2 separate regions of the Homo sapiens genome follow, and region 2 is linked to region 1. Evidence: fine-mapped expression QTL. Tissue or cell type: whole blood. Region 1 holds a variant in brackets; the other region holds the start of a gene. All regions are shown on one strand. Distances are between the middles of the regions.

Region 1 (11,002 bases):
TGTGTGTGTGTGTGTGTGTGTGTACATATACATATATATATGTACACACACACATTATATATATATATAATTTGAAATTTCATTCACTCTACTATAGTCAATTCTTCAAGTTCATAGTTGTATTCAGTATTCATCTTAATGGCAAGATCAATCTTATGGAAAATATCAGTTCTGTAATAATAAAGAAAGGAGTATAAAAGCTTGTGAGTGGTAAACCATGCCCCTCAAAGTATAACAGTTTTAACTCAACTAGAACTCAAATAATGAAGGCTAAGAACTAAGACTAAGACTTAATTCCAAGACTAATAATTCTATACTCAATGATTTTGAGTATGGAATTCTCAAATAAAAGGAAGAGTTAAACTCACCATAAAGATCCAAAGAAACATAGTTTGATGAAGTCATGAACAACTATTATGCCAAATGCACAGTATTAGTAAATCTTCACACAGTCTTGATTAGGTAGCATAATAAGAAAGTCAATGATTGGTAAGGTAACCAATCAAGCTGTTAATAAAGTGAATTCCCCTCAGTACTAGAATAAAGAAGATAAGCAAAACTGAAGTGAAAAGAAAAGAATTGTGGTAGACTGTGAAAGGTGGCCCACAAATTTGCATATGTGACTTTGTACCACGATGACTTTGTGCACTATGAGTTTGTACCATATGGATGAGCCTGAACTAGCCCTACTAATGATGATAGATACATGGCTATCACTTCACCAGACATAGAACAATCACCAGACATGTGTGGAACCATCCTAGACAATCTAGCTATCTTTTTTGATGGAAGAAATACACAGTCAACCCACAAAACTGTGAGAAATAATAGATATTATTATAATTCACAAAGCTTTGGATAGTTTATTATGGTGCAAAAGCTAACTGATAAAGAAAATGGTACTAGGACTGAAGTGCTGCTGTTACAGCAACCTGAAATATGTAGCATTAGCTTTGGGACAAGGTGATGGATAGAGGCTGGACAAGTGACAGGAAAACTGTTAGCCAAAATTGAGAAAATAGAGAATAAATTGTTAGGAGCAAGAAAAGTGGTAAGAAACTGCTATAGCACTCAGGAAAAATGGCAATCTGTATTATATAGTAGTGCAACAATAGCAAAACTGTTGCCTATGATAATATGGAAGATAGAAAATTTACCCGATGGGCCAGGTATGGTGGTTCACACCTGTCATCCCAGCACTTTGGGAGGCCGAGGCAGGCAGATCAGCTGAGGTCAGGAGTTGGAGACCAACCTAGCCAACATGGTGAAACCCCATCTCTACTGAAAAAATACAAAAATTAGCCAGGCGTGATGGCGGGTGCCTGTAATCCCAGCTCCTCAGGAGGCTGAGGCAGGAGAATCGCTTGAACCCGAGAGGTGGAGTTTGCAGTGAGCCGAGATCGTGCCACTGCACCCCAGCCTGGGCAACAGAATGAGACTCTAAAGGAAAAAAAAATAAAAAGAGAGAAAGAGAGAAAGAAAGAAGAAAGAGAAAGAAAGAAAGAAAAAGAAAGAAAGAAAGAAAGAAAGAAAGAAAGAAAGAAAGAAAGAAAGAAAGAAAGAAAGAAAGAAAGAAAGAAAAGAAAGGGGAGGGGAAGGGAGGGGAACGGAGGGGAAGGGGAGGGGAGGGGAAGGGGAAGGGGAAGGGGAAGGGGAAGGGGAAGGGAATTTACCCAGTGGATTAGAGAATCAGCTAAGGAGATTCCCAGGCAAAATATTGAAGGAATAGATGTTTTTTAATTGTATAAGATAACATACAAAAACAAGAGAGAGCTAAAGAAAGAACTGTGCAGTTTTCCTGCAGAGTTCATAAGCAATATAAAGGAGCCAGGACTTGAGAGCTGGGGGAAAGACCCTTCATATTTCTGGTCTCTCTAGCCATTAAAAGATTCTCAAAGTAATAAATGACTGGCTGGGTGTAGTGGCTCATGCCTGTAATCCCAGCACTTTGGGAAGCCAAGGTGAGATGATCATTTGAGGCCAGGAATTTGAGGTTACAGTGAGCTATGATCATGGCACTGCACTCCTGTCTTGGCAACAGAGCAAGACCCTGTCTCAAAAAAAAAAAAAAAAAAAAAAAAAAGAAAGGAAATGACTTCACAGTGAAAATCCAGATCAAGGGTGTGGCTGAAAGGCCCCTTGTTAAACAACTGAATGGTGTAAGGTGGTGCCTAGAATCTTTTTTTTTTTTTTTTTGAGATGGGGTCTTGCTCTGTAGCCAGGCTGGAGTGCAGTGGTGCGATCTCGGCTCATTGCAACCTCCACCTCTCGGGATCAAGCGATTCTCCTGCCTCAGCTTCCCAAGTAGCTGGGACTACTTGGGAGGCCACCACGCCCAGCTAATTTTTGTATTTTTAGTAGAGATGGGGTTTCACCATGTTGGCCAGAATGGTCTCGATCTCTTGATTTCGTGATCTGCCCACTTCAGCCTCCCAGAGTGCTGGGATTACAGGCGTGAGCCACCACGCCCAGTCGGTGGTGCCTACAATCTTAAGGATGTATCACAGCAGCCTGGTATACGGCCCAAAGATGAGAGTGACTTTCTCAAAAATAATTAGTGATGTGGTCTTTAGGGCATGGAATAGGCCCAAACCATATTCATAGGAGGTCCACAAAGTTCCAAAAAGTTTTTAAAAGAGTTAGACTGATAAAAATCCCTGCAAGCTTGGACAAAAAAAAAAGTTCAAAATGAGAAGATTTCTCTGGGCCTCCAAATTTTCACATACAGAGAGCAGGCTAAGAAAGCCACCCACCTGCAAATATGAGCTATTTTTTATTGAAAACTAAGAGTGTCTCAGAGGGTAGAGAAAAGAGCCCATAGTACAACAAACCTCCTTCCTCTGAGAAGAACATCAGAGGACAGTAAGTTATAGAATTGAGCCTTGGAAGAACTGAAGCCTAATCAAAAAACGTTCTCTGCTTCTTGAATAGAGGGACCCCAGCAACATCTGACAAGCTAGACTTCAGAATTTTTATGGACTACTAACTGTTACATATCTCTCATTTCTTCCCTTCTTTAAATGAGAGTATTTGTCGCTCTATTTTAAGTAGGGTATGGGGGCAGATAGCTTCAAGAGGAGCTGCACCTGAAATGCTGCACCTTATCCACTTCTAAACTAACTGCAGATCACAAGATCATAAACTTCAATACTGATACCTTGGAACAAAATAATGGGGGGGATTTTCATGAAAGCAAGGATTTTTCTCTGTTTTTCTCCTTGTTGTATTCCAAACACCTAGGACAGTGATAGGTTCATGATAGGCCCTCAATAAATATTTATTGAATTAATGAATAAACTCTTTAAAAAGTTTAAACTCACGTATCATTTCATTGCTCTTTTTGTATCGTATTAGCAGACATTTGTGGTTTTCATTGCCAAAAAACAAAAAACACAGGCCAGGCATAGTGGCTCATGCCTGTAATCCCAGCACTTCAGGAGGCTGAAGCAGGAAGATCACTTCAGCCTAGGAGGTCAAGGCTGCAGTGAGTCATGATCGCCCCACCGCATTCCAGCCTGGGTGACAGAGCAAGATGCTGTTGCACAAACAACAACAACAAAACCCCAATGTGACCTAAATGTGGTATCCTGTTCCCAATAGTAGTTACTTTCAAAAAGAGGTAAAACCTCAATGTGAATCCAGCCACTTGCTCAGAGGAGCATCATAAGGAAATAAGAGAAGTCCTTCAAAGCTCCTAGTGAGCGGAGATCAGCTTGTACCCTGAAGCATGAGATTCTATTAGTACCTTTTGTTAGTATTCATAACTAACAGTATTATGACTGGTCATACAATTATCTAGCTTTTCTAATTCATCTCTTGACTGAATCTATGACCTCCCAGGCTAATAAATTCCACAGGTTGGCCATACATTGGGCAAAGAAATATTTTCCTTATGCTTTTTAAATTCTAAATTTATTTCAGCCATTAATTTTACAGAATGAGTGACCCTTGTCTTAACAGTTGGAAGACATAAAATTAAGTAAATTGGACCTCCAATAAGAATGTCATTTTAGCAGTTTTGTGTGGTAATGTTTCATTTATCACGTGAACATGTGGCTGTGTTAGAAGAGTATCAATAGGTAATTATTTTCCTTTCAGATTTTTACTTTCACAGTAGAACAGAAAGGAAATTTCAGGATAAAGATAAAGAGAAAAGAAAGAAAACAAACAAGGGATATATGACACTGTCTGGATCATGGACTGCTATCATTCTACCTGTGTTCTTTAAAATTGCTATGTTCTAAGATAATAAGATAAAAAAAAATGGATTCAATCAGTTTTAAAGCTGAAATTTTCCTGGGTAACAATAACAGCATTTGACTATGTTTATCCCTTAGATTAGAAGCAAATGAAAGAAAAAGGATTTGCTGTTGACGGAATTTTATTCTTAAGGCTAATGGTGCCTGTAAAACAATTAACAAAGTATTTTTTAATATAATTACTGCCTGGGATCTGTGTGTATGTGTCATTTTTCACAGTCTGTTTCATTGAAATGTATAAGGTCAGCTAATAAGAAGCAGTTTGCTGGCCAGGCATGGTGGTTCATGCCTGTAATCCCAGCACTTGGGGAGGCAGAGGTGGGTGGATCATGAGGTCAGGAGTTGGAGACCAGCTTGGCCAACATGGTGAAACCCCATCTCTACTGAAAGTACAAAAATTAGCCGGGCATGGTGGAGCATGCCTGTATTCCCAGCTACTCGGGAGGCTGAAGCAGAAGAATCACTTGAACCCGGGAGGCGGAGGTTGCAGTGAGCAGAGATCGCGCCACTGCACTCCAGCCTGGGTGACACAGCAAGACAGCAAGACTCCGTCTCCAAAAAAAAAAAAAAAGAAGAAGAAGAAGAAGCTGCTGTCTGCTGCGTGATTAATCAGGAATCAGGTTGGGGGCCTCAGTAGGATTAAGCCTTGGAATAAACAAGGATTATTTATTTATTTAGCTTTGGTAATTTGGAAAAGCTTTACTCACTGAACTAATCACAAATTTTTTTGTAAGAACACAAGATTCCCCATTATTTAAGTTTACACTCCTGATAACCTCTTTTTTTTTTTTTTTAGACAGGGTCTTGTTCTGTCACCCATGCTGGAGTGCAATGGCTCGATCACAGCTCACTGCAGCCTTGACCTCCTGGGCTCAAGCAATCCTCCCACCTCAGCTGGGATAACAGGCATGCATTACCATGCCTGGCTAATTTTTGTATTTTTTGTAGAGATGGAGTTTTGCCATGTTGCCTAGGCTGGCCTCAAACTCCTGGGCTCAAGGAATCCTCCTGCCTTGACCTCCCAAATTACGGAGATTACAGGCATGAGCCACCACATCTGGTCCCAATGATTATTAGGAATAATACACAATCTTAATACAGAGCAAGAAATGGTGGACATTGGGGAGTAAAACAGTGAAGCATTTTGCCACTGATGGGTTTCAGAGAATGAAAATGTGCACACTGATAAAATAACTAATATTGAAGATTATAATGTATTGTTAATCAATATCTGCATATGTTGGCACACATGCATTAGAAAAAAAAATTACAGCTGGAAAGAATTTTGCAATCATATGGCACAACTTCAACATTTCAGTGAAGAGGAACTATGAACCTGAGAAGTGATGTGTACAAGGTAACAGAGCTACTTAA[T/C]GGAAGGCAGAAAGGTTGGGCAACAGTGCTAACTTTCTTCAACAGCAACAATTCTGCCTAGGTCATAATAACATCTTGAAAAAGGAGAACCCTCTGACATGTGACCAAAGTCTGGTCACCTTTAAGATTTCACCCCAGGCTGTTTTTTGCTCAAGCCCAGATAAATCTGCTCTCTTTCTCCAGAGCCTGGAATGCTAGAAAGACTCTTTTACTTTGGGCACAATCAGTGGAAAAGCAACTTAGAAACTTACAAGGAAAGAGTTGCAGTGGTGCTTCTTCCTCCATAATCTCCCTGCCAAAAGATTAGAGTAACTAAATTCTTTTCAGTAGTGTAGCCTTCAATACATATGACAACACTCATGAGTGTGTTGATCTAATATATACTAAGATATTATTTCTAAAAACGTATGATTCAAATTTTCTTTATATTATGACAAATAATTATAATATTAGGTCACATATTATGGGTCTGGCCAGAGGCATGGAATCATGCTACTGTTGCTTCTACTACCACTAGTTCTCTACTCTATAGAGATATTTTTATGCTTTGTATGTCATTCTGTCACATGAAGTGTGTTGTAATGAGTATATTTATGAGTCTAGCCATTGGGAGTGGAAACTGATGTATTATGTAGCCTTGCACCTCATGTGCAGCTGAATTATAATGTAGATCTTAACAGCCAAGAAGTCTGTAATCAGAGAAAAAAAGAATTTCAAAACATAAACTATGTTCTTGGCACTAGCCTTGAATACTGGACATTCATAACCCACAAGTGCCCAGACTATAAATTTGCAAGTTGCATTAATACGGCAGTAAAAGTCACTCTTCTGAAAGCTGCACTTGTAAAATATTTATAAATTCACATGGTTGTTCCTGGCAAATATCTACATCTGTCAGCTCTGTCTTTTTGCTCCCAAAGCAGCAGAGTTGGTGTCCTGTGTAATTCACAATATGTTCATAAAAAATTATTTTGAAAAATCAAGATAGAAGATATTTTATTCTAAGGGGCAATATATCTGCTCCTCCAATGGTATGGTGTTACTATTTGATCTCCTGAGATCCTTTCTCATCAAGTCTTTTTCTCTGAACAAGATTCCAAATTAGCAAGGCAAGTCCTGTGGAGTTGTCTTTAAAATCTCACATTAATATGTACAACACAGGCCAGGCACGGTGGCTCACACCTGTAATACCAGCACTTTGGGAGGCTGAGGCAGGCAGATCACCTGAAGTCAAGAGTTCGAGATCAGCCTGGTCAACATGCTGAAACCCAGACTCTACTAAAAATTCAAAAAATCACCAAGGGTGGTGGTGGGCACCTGTAACCCCAGCTACTTGAGAGACTGAAGTGGGGGAATCACTTGAACTCGGGAGGCGGAGGTTGCAGTAAGCGGAGATGGCGCTACCGCAGTCCAGCCTGGGCAACACAGTGAGACTCAGCCTCAAAAAAAAAAAAAGAAAAAAGTACAACACAGTGGAGTTTTTCCTTCCCAAGTCAATATGTATATCAATGTCACATGGTAAAGGAATTTTCTATGTACATAATCTCCCTATAGTATTTAGGAGATGCTTCATATAGGAGACCTTCTAGATAGACCTGTCTAGATAATTTTTTTTTTCTTAAGCCAGGAAAAAAAATTAAAAGACATCAGATTACATTTTCATATAGATGTATACCATACCGATGTAGTCCATTATTTCTAGTGGGGAGAAAGCCCCCCAAAATCATACCTACTAACAGACTGAGTACTTGACAATAAAATATGCTGTTGTATTTGTATTTGTTTAATTTTTACTGCCATCTAGCTTTTCCTTCCCTCTCTCCCCATGAAAAAGGATTTAGGGGCCGGGCACGGTGGCTCACGCCTGTAATCCCAGCACTTTGGGAGGCCAAGGCAGGTGGAGCACAAGGTCAGGAGATCGACACCATCCTGGCTAACACAGTGAAAGCCTGTCTCTACTAAAAATACAAAAAATTAGCCAGGAGTGGTGGCGGGTGCCTGTAGTCCCAGCTACTAGGGAGGCTGAGGCAGGAGAATGGCATGAACCTGGGAGGCCAAGCTTGCAGTAAGCTGAGATCATGCCACTGCACTCCAGCCTGGGCGACAGAGCAAGACTCTGTCTCAAAAAAAGAAAAAAAAGAAAAAAAAAGAAAAAGGATTTAGGTTGTTTATAATGCAAACATAATTGTTATAAAGACAGAACAGTTAAAGGTGAGATCAGAAATATAAAACACCAGATAGTATTATAGTCCTTAAATTTGGGGAGATAATGCATCCCTTTGAGAATCTGATGAAAACTTTGTGCTCTTTCCCCAGAAAATGCAAATAAGTATATACAAACAAACAAAACACATAACACACACTTTTGTATACTAACTCAGGCATTCAGAGACCACCAACACCATTCCACAGACCACCACAGAGGAAGGAGAAAGAAAATGTATATCAGGAAACTAGAATAAAATTATTAGTACCATTAAGCATGAAGTTTAGCTCTAACTTTTAGTCAATACAGAAGGGAGAATTCAAAGGGTTTCACAGATCTCAATGTTTAACAGAGAAATACACATCAGGTTTTCAGGAGACATATTTTGAGAGGAATTTGTCGGGCGGATGAGTCTCGGATTTATTTTATTTTTTATTTTTTTTGAGACAGAGTCTTGCTCTGTCACCCAGGCTGGAGTGCAGTGGCGCGATCTCTGCTCACTGCAACCTCTGCCACTTGGGTTCAAGCGATTCTCCTGCCTCAGCCTCTGGAGTAACTGGGATTACAGGCGCCCGCCACCACACCTGGCTAATTTTTGTATTTTTAGTAGAGATGGGGGTTTCACCATCTTGGCCAGGCTGGTCTTGAACTCCTGACCTTGTGATCTACCTGCCTCGGCCTCCCAAAGTGCTGGGATTACAGGTGTGAGCCACTGCGCCTGGCCTCAGATTTATTATTAAATACACGATGCGCAATGCCTTTAACAGGAATTTTGCAAAAACGCAAAACTATTTTCACATGGCCATTTTTACATTGTTCCCTTAATAAATCTTGAGGATATTCTTAATAAGTAGTAATTCTTATGAGTAGTTATACCAACTGAGCCTAGATAATCTGGCTTCTGTATCTGACCTGACATAGCAACAAATGGTTTCTCTCTAGAGAAAGCTCCAGTATTCATAAGGCGCAATGTGCTTGCAGCAGCCTTCCTGGAACTACAACTAAGAAGCTGCAGCATCACCAAGGCCTCCTGAGAAATTGTACAGACTCACTAACCCACATACCTGGCAGGACTCATGTGTCAAAAAGGTGACTCTAAGCAAGACGCCAAGAAATACATGAATTTAAGAGGCAAAACTAAAAACTATAAATAGGTTAGAGTGTGAATGAAGGTGTACCCGCCTCGATTTCTGCTCACTGTGGAGAAGCCTATGGTTAAAGCACTGATCTTATTTTGTCCGTTAAAGCCCCTCCAATCAAGTATATGACCTGGGGATGGGAACACTGATTCCATACCAACTGAGGAGTAGAAGAATTCAAAGCTAAAGAACGAAGAATATTATTGCAGATTAAGAATATCATTAGACAGAAATTGACTGTCTGATTATGTTGATTCATCACATGCTATGCTGGTGATCAGCAGCCCAAATGATATACATATACCTTTTTTTTTTCCAAAGAAATTGTCATGTAATCTTTTTATAAGCAGTATGGACTGATACCTTACCAAGCCAGAAGAACAAAATTTCTTTTTCAGATGCTTATGACAAAAGGACTTGGAATTATCTGTCTAAATAATGTCAAAATAGCCATTATTTCCTTCCACAAATGAAGGAACAGGATTGGGGATTAACTTTGTGGAATTCAATTAATTTTGCACTTGGCATAGTATATGGAAACAGTTTACAACATTTGGGCTTGGAGACTCTGGGTTGAATATTTAAACCATTGCTTGAGACATAATCAGTGGATAGAAAATTCTAAGAACAGCAGCCCTACTCCAGAACTTCTAGTGGGTGACATCTGGGGTGAATTAAGTTTCTGTTCTGTCCCAGCTTTAGCTACAGATGTGGAGGTGTAAATGTGCTTTCCAGGAACTGTAGATTATATGAACATGATGTAGACTACTTTTATTAGGAGTTCAAGTACCACATTTCCAGAAATATAAAGAATGACAGCAAGGAAAAAGGCCTTTAGAGCTTAAATTACAACCACATCTAATGAACTCAGAGGTGTTTTTCACTTACTAGGGTATTGCTTTTCAACTCCTGTAGCTTAAATGAATCTAGTGATCATAACAGTAAATATGGTTTCCAAAGGTATCCCAAGAGGTATCATTAGTCACATATTACATCCTTTTCTAATTTGTACACTTTCCATGTTTCAGGGTTTCACAGGACTGCTGAAACCTCCAGAATTTCATGTTTCCCTCAGCAGTCTACAATAACCCTTAATCTGAATGACATGTATTATTTCCTCAGCAAACATGTGATGTGGGAAGCTTAGTAAAAGATTTATTATAAGAAAAGGCTCGATGTTTTATTTCCTCCCCTAATTGAATTCATTATTGCTCTCTGTTTAGAAATGCTATGTTGATGTATTACACCTCAGAACAACTATGAACGTGCCATCTGCAGCAGGAAGGTTTATTAGACTACAAATCAGGATACAGATGTTGGAGGGAAAGCTACGTATGCTAAGTCATAATACATTAAAGCACATTTTAAATCTATATATCATGGTGGTCCAGCAGATTTTTATTTTTTTAAATTAGGTATTGGTACTTATGAAAATTCAGGAACTAGAAGCCCTCTCTTCATATGCATGATAGATAAAGTGATAAGCTGCTGAGGTGATAAGTATAACCCTGTAGATGGGGAAAAGGACTAAGTAACTTCAAAAGAAAAAGCTCACATTCTTATTCCGTAATACTAGTGAAAAGATCCACATTTAAAGTCGGCATTCTAAACCAAATGAGCAGATAAGTCTTTTGGGAGTGTAAATGATCACAGTTTTATTGATCTTTTTCACAAATTTAGATTTTCATCCATTTACTAGAAGAGCATTTATTGAGTACCTGTTACTTGCTAGGTGACTCTAGGATGTGCTCTAGGATTTTATTAAAACGAGACTCAGTTATATTATTTTGATGTAAGAGGAGTTGTTTAATTTTTCTTTCTTTCTCCAACTGTTCAAGTTCAGGCCCAATAATGGACAAATTGCCCGCAGAAAGTTTACAAGAATATATCAACTACTTCATTGGTTGAAAGAATTAGAGGAACCTTGGTCAGCACAGCTGAGAGGATTGCTTTCCTGAGAGATGACATGATTCTCTTCCATTAGGCTCACAAAAATATAACTCAATTGTATCAATCTTAAACAA
Region 2 (5,000 bases), 180 kb after region 1:
TAAATTAAGGGATGAATTAATTGTGTAAACATATAGTGCATCTCTTCTTCCTGAGCTCCTGGACTCGCCTTTCGCTATATCCTACTTTCAAGGACAAGGGAGGGGAGAGCTGTACATATAGTTAGATAAAAGATGAGAAGATTCCTTCTGGCATGTTTCTGTTGGCAAAGGGAACTATTTTCCAAAAGGTCATCTGAAAGGAACAGTAGGTTCTGTGAATTCTCCTAAAAGCAGGAGGGATGTTAAGGCCCACCAGAAAATGTATGCTGGCACCCAATCTGGATGAAGGTGTTAACCCCGCACCAAGTCTCTGGTCCAGAATTATCTGCAAATATATTATCCTGGCCAGGAGCTCCCCAGATAGGATTAGAAAGGAAGAAAGAGACTGTAAATGGAAAGAAAGATAAGCTAAGCATGTGCTTTGGGTAAGAAGTCCCAGCCCAAGGAGATGCCTGGGCTGTTGTCTGGGGCTGGAGCCGCCTCAGTGGGAGGTAGTCAGAGTGTCTGAGGTAGAAGACCCCGGGGAAGGAACGCAGGGCGAAGAGCTGGACTTCTCTGAGGATTCCTCGGCCTTCTCGTCGTTTCCTGGCGGGGTGGCCGGAGAGATGGGCAAGAGACCCTCCTTCTCACGTTTCTTTTGCTTCATTCGGCGGTTCTGGAACCAGATCTTCACTTGGGTCTCGTTGAGCTGCAGGGATGCAGCGATCTCCACCCTGCGGGCGCGCGTCAGGTACTTGTTGAAGTGGAACTCCTTCTCCAGTTCCGTGAGCTGCTTGGTAGTGAAGTTGGTGCGCACCGCGTTGGGTTGACCCAGGTAGCCGTACTCTCCAACTTTCCCTGGGGCAAAGTGGGAAGCCATGAGACGGAAATGTAAAAATTTTTAAATCGACTTGAGATTCCCCACACGCTTCATGGCAACACTCAGGTAAAGAAAAGATCAAGAACTCAGCACAAATCGGGCTGTGGAGGGTGAGTGATGAGGTGTAAAGTGTTAACCTGATGTAAACCATTAGCATGGTCAGACCGGTGATTAATGGAGCCTCAAGATATTAACAGAACACTACCGTCACAATAACCACCCCCACATACTTCCTATTTCCCAAATGTATAAAATCCTTGAAAACACACCAATCCCTGAGACTTCTTTGCCCCAACACCTCTGGGCACCCTCTCCATGCACTACAACACTAGTCTGATACAAAAGCCTTTTAAAAAAAAGATCATTATTAATTTCCTTGGAAATTAAGCATACCAGCTCCTTCCAGAATAATCAAGGAGCATCCACCAACCAGCAGGACTGACCTGTTTTGGGAGGGTTTCTTTTGACTTTCATCCAGTCAAAAGTCTGCGCTGGAGAAGATGTCTCCGATGCGGGGGAGCGACAGGCTTCTTGGTGGCTGGCGTGGAGAGGGGACAAGGAGTTATTATACGTAGCCAGGGCCAGGCTCTGGTGCTCCTGTCCATATGAGTGGTGAATGTATTGAGGCGAGCCCACCGCGCCCCCAGCATAACCCTGGTGGTGGTGGTGATGCTGGACCATGGGAGATGAGAGATTTCCAGAGTAAACAGCGGGAGCGCACTGGGGGTACCCACCACTTACGTCTGCTTCCTGATTTAACGCGTAGGGGCTGTAAGGCGCACTGAAGTTCTGTGAGCCATAGCTTGGACCACAACTTGAGTGGGAGTAGGACACCCCCAGGTTCCCGGAAGTCTGGTAGGTAGCCGGCTGGGGGTGGCGATGGTGGTGGTGGTGGTGGTGGTGGGGCGAACCGATCTGCACCCCCCTGCCCACTAGGAAGCGGTCGTCGCCGCCGCAACTGTTGGCGCTGACCGCGCACGACTGGAAAGTTGTAATCCTATGGTCCGAGGGGTAGGCTCGGGCTGAGCAGGTCCCCGAGTCGCCACTGCTAAGTATGGGGTATTCCAGGAAGGAGTTCATTCTTGCATTGTCCATCTGTCACTGAGTGACCTGGTCCTGCGAAGCCCGGCGTGACTGTGCCAACTTTCTCACTTCCTCCATGGGGCCGGAGAAGAAAAATGATATGAATGTACAGTGCGCAAGAGGGGGGGCGGGAGGGCGGAGGACGCTGGAGGAGGGGCACGTGACGGTGTCAGCCAATGGCTGAGCCTCCTGCAAAAGTTTGCCGGCTTCCGCAGTGATGGATCACCGTTTTAGTGGCATTTAAATCCCCGGCGCTCCGCCGTCTAGGTGACGCGCAGTCGCCCCCCCAGGCAGCCTAGGCGGCGGCAGCTGCTGCGGCGACTGCAAAGGCCGATTTGGAGTGCTGGAGCGAAGAAGAGCAAAAGCTGCGTTCTGCGCGCGCCCGACTCCGCTGCCCGCCCCGCCAGGCCTCCGGGAGGTGGGGGCTGGGAGGCGTCCCCCGCTCCCGCCCCCTCCCCACCGTTCAATGAAAGATGAACTGGCGAGAGGTGAGAAGGGAAGAGGGCTCCCGGCTCTCTCGGGGCGGGAATCAGTGGGCCAGAGCTCGCCGGGTGGCCGCAAGTACGCCGGCCCAGCCCGCAGCGCGCCCAGCCGGAAGGCGGGGAATCCGGCTGACACCGCGCCCCGGGTTCCCAGGCCACCTCCTCTGTTCTGAGGCTGGGCTGGGAGACCGTGGGGCTGTGAGGAGCGCATAGAACCGTGGTGGAGGGCGAGGCTGGGCCACCGGCTCTTCAAGCTCGGAATGGAGGGGGAAGAGCGCAGAGGGCTGGCTGGGAGGAACTCGGGTGGGCGTGAAGGAGACGAGGGCAAGAAAAGAAACTTCCCTTCTTCCAGGAGGGTCTTCGAAACCCTCTCCCCACAGCCCCTCTCGTCATTAGCATGGCAATGAGGAGTTTCTGTAATTCGACTTGGAGGGGCGGATGAGCCCTGGAAACTCAGAGCTCGCCGGAAAAGGCCGGGGGCGGCCGGGCTCTTCTTCCCCACCTTCCCTCTCTCGTCGCTCTCCGCCCCTTTCTCTTTCCCACTCAGTTTTGCACCGGGAGCCCTCCGGGATGCGGAGCTACTCGACCGCCGGATTTTTAGGGGTAGGAGGCGGGGGAGAGAGATGACGCTGGCGGACGTGGCCAGCGCGGGGGCCGGGCGGTGCGCTGCAGGCCATCTGCCGGCGCCCTGAGACCCAGGAGCCTCCGCGCTCCCGCGTGGGCCTCACAGGGCCGGTCCACAGCTCCAACATAGTAGCTGAACTCCCTTCGTTGCGTTCCTCTTTTTCTGGAGGGGAATGTTAGAAGAGAGAGAGAGCTTCCTTTTATAACCTTCCTCATTCTGCTGCACGTCTAGAGTGGGTGTGGGGGCTGGCAGGTGGGAGGGGCGGTGGACAAATGGCTGATGGTGGACGGGACACTTTACCCCAACGACACCTCCTCCCCTTTCCAACTGGCTGTGTAGTTGCTTATGAGAACCTTCAAGTCCTTCCCTAGAGAGACACATGCAAATCTGAGCCTCATCCCAGGCCAGGGGTCCTGTTCCTCATCACCCTACTTCCCTGAGGCTGCTGAGGTCGTTAAATTGTTGTTTACTATTAGGTTTCACGTCAACCCTGGGCTTGTAGAGAGAAAAAGCCAAACGGAGACCAAGAATTGATGCAGTCTTGGGTAGGAGAAATCGAGAGCTTGTCCAGGAAGCTTTGCTGTATAAATTATAAGCAATGCTGTATAAATTTTACTCCAACCATGTGTACAATGTTGGAATCAGATGAAATTTATAGTGAATGAATGTATGTGGGTTTGGGGTTTCCACTCCTCTTCAGCCTTTCCTCCCGTTAGAACAAGGAAGGTTTTTTTTTTTTCAAGGAAGGTACATTTCAAATATGTTAGTCACCCTTTCAGTCTTCTGTATTCTGTTCTCCACGTACCGAAGTTCCCCCAAACCTGTCCTCTCAAGAGAAAAAACCCATGCTGACTCTGGACTCCCTCAGTAACAATGAAACATTCTCCCCAAACATTTCCTTTCAGAATAGTATTTGTGACTTTGATCCATCCCAAGCATGGTTAAGAGGGAGCACGGGCAGGAAAGGCCCACTTTCTGGGGTTGGGCAGCCACCCCTGCCCCAGTTTCGGCTCCTGGGAATCCTCCGACTGGAGAAGGGGAAAGGCAAGGCAGTCCTCCTGGAGGCGGCTTCCTTGGGAGCACCAGCTTCCAGCGGCGGGGAGAGAAGGAGCTCCTGTGGGAGAGGGGGCAGGATGTGAGTAGGTCGGTGCTGGCTATGCGAGCAATCCTCCCTCCAAGCCTGAGCAAGTCGGTACATTTTCCCCCGCTGCCTCATTCCTGTACCTTGGTTGCCCTCCTCAGCCTGGGTTTGCAGGACCCCCTCGGCTGCAGGGCGCCTGCCACAAAGCCGACCCCGGCAGGAGCCACTCTCTCTGCTAGTTCGCTGCCTCGGCCCTGCTCTCCCTCAGCCTCTCTTCTTCTCTCCTGGCCTCTTTTCTGGGGCATCCTGGGTGGAGTGTTTTTCTTGGGATCACGAGCTTGCACTCGCACACAGGCCCGCAGACACACAGGCCCGGCGGCCGCCCTTCTCCGCTTACTGTTCCCGGCTCCCCGCAGGCCGGGTGCTCGCAGCCGGGCTGGCTATGCCTCGCCTGGCAGCCCAGAGCGCCGCTCCCCGGGAACAGCACACAAAGGCAGCCTCCCCTGGCCTCTAGCCCTTAGGCTTCTGTAGCTCAGTTCTTTCCCCACACCCCTCCCCCAAGAAATTCTGGGGGCCGTTCCACCGAGTAGGAGATCCTTGGCCCTCTAGGCAAGTAGGTCAGCGCCCCAAGACTGGAGCTGGTCTCTTTCAACGCCTTGGGAGACTGGGTGAAAGGCGAGCTTGGTTACGCTTAAAATGATCGCCTACAAGCGGTTCTCTTGGCTCAAAACGCCTCTTTCAGGGCTCTTATGCTAGAAAGGAAAGGAATAAGGAGGAGATAAAATGACGCCGAGGCCCTGAACTGTTCATGGCATCCGCGGCTCAGCCAAGCTGTTGTTTTAAAAGAGCAATAAAAATGAATTATGACTA

The links. PIP is the estimated chance that this variant, and not a neighbour inherited with it, causes the effect.
Region 2: HOTAIRM1 starts here. The variant in region 1 is fine-mapped to the expression of HOTAIRM1 in whole blood (INTERVAL, PIP above 0.99).

The regions. Positions count from the first base shown.
Region 1 is chr7:26,906,887-26,917,888 of GRCh38, forward strand. No RefSeq gene overlaps it. Among named protein-coding and RNA genes, the nearest start is that of SKAP2, 48 kb to the left of the region's middle. The variant T/C (reference allele first, on the strand shown) is at 5,634.
Region 2 is chr7:27,093,959-27,098,958 of GRCh38, forward strand. HOTAIRM1 (HOXA transcript antisense RNA, myeloid-specific 1) reads left to right here and starts at 2,136. Exons shown (of 2, transcript NR_038367.1): 1 at 2,136-2,430. It overlaps HOXA1 (homeobox A1), which reads right to left and starts at 2,042. Exons shown (of 2, transcript NM_005522.5): 1 at 1,303-2,042; 2 at 1-837. The coding sequence starts at 1,954. The coding sequence ends at 482. RefSeq lists enhancers at 129-629, 630-1,130, 2,012-2,306, 2,432-3,004 and a silencer at 2,359-2,528.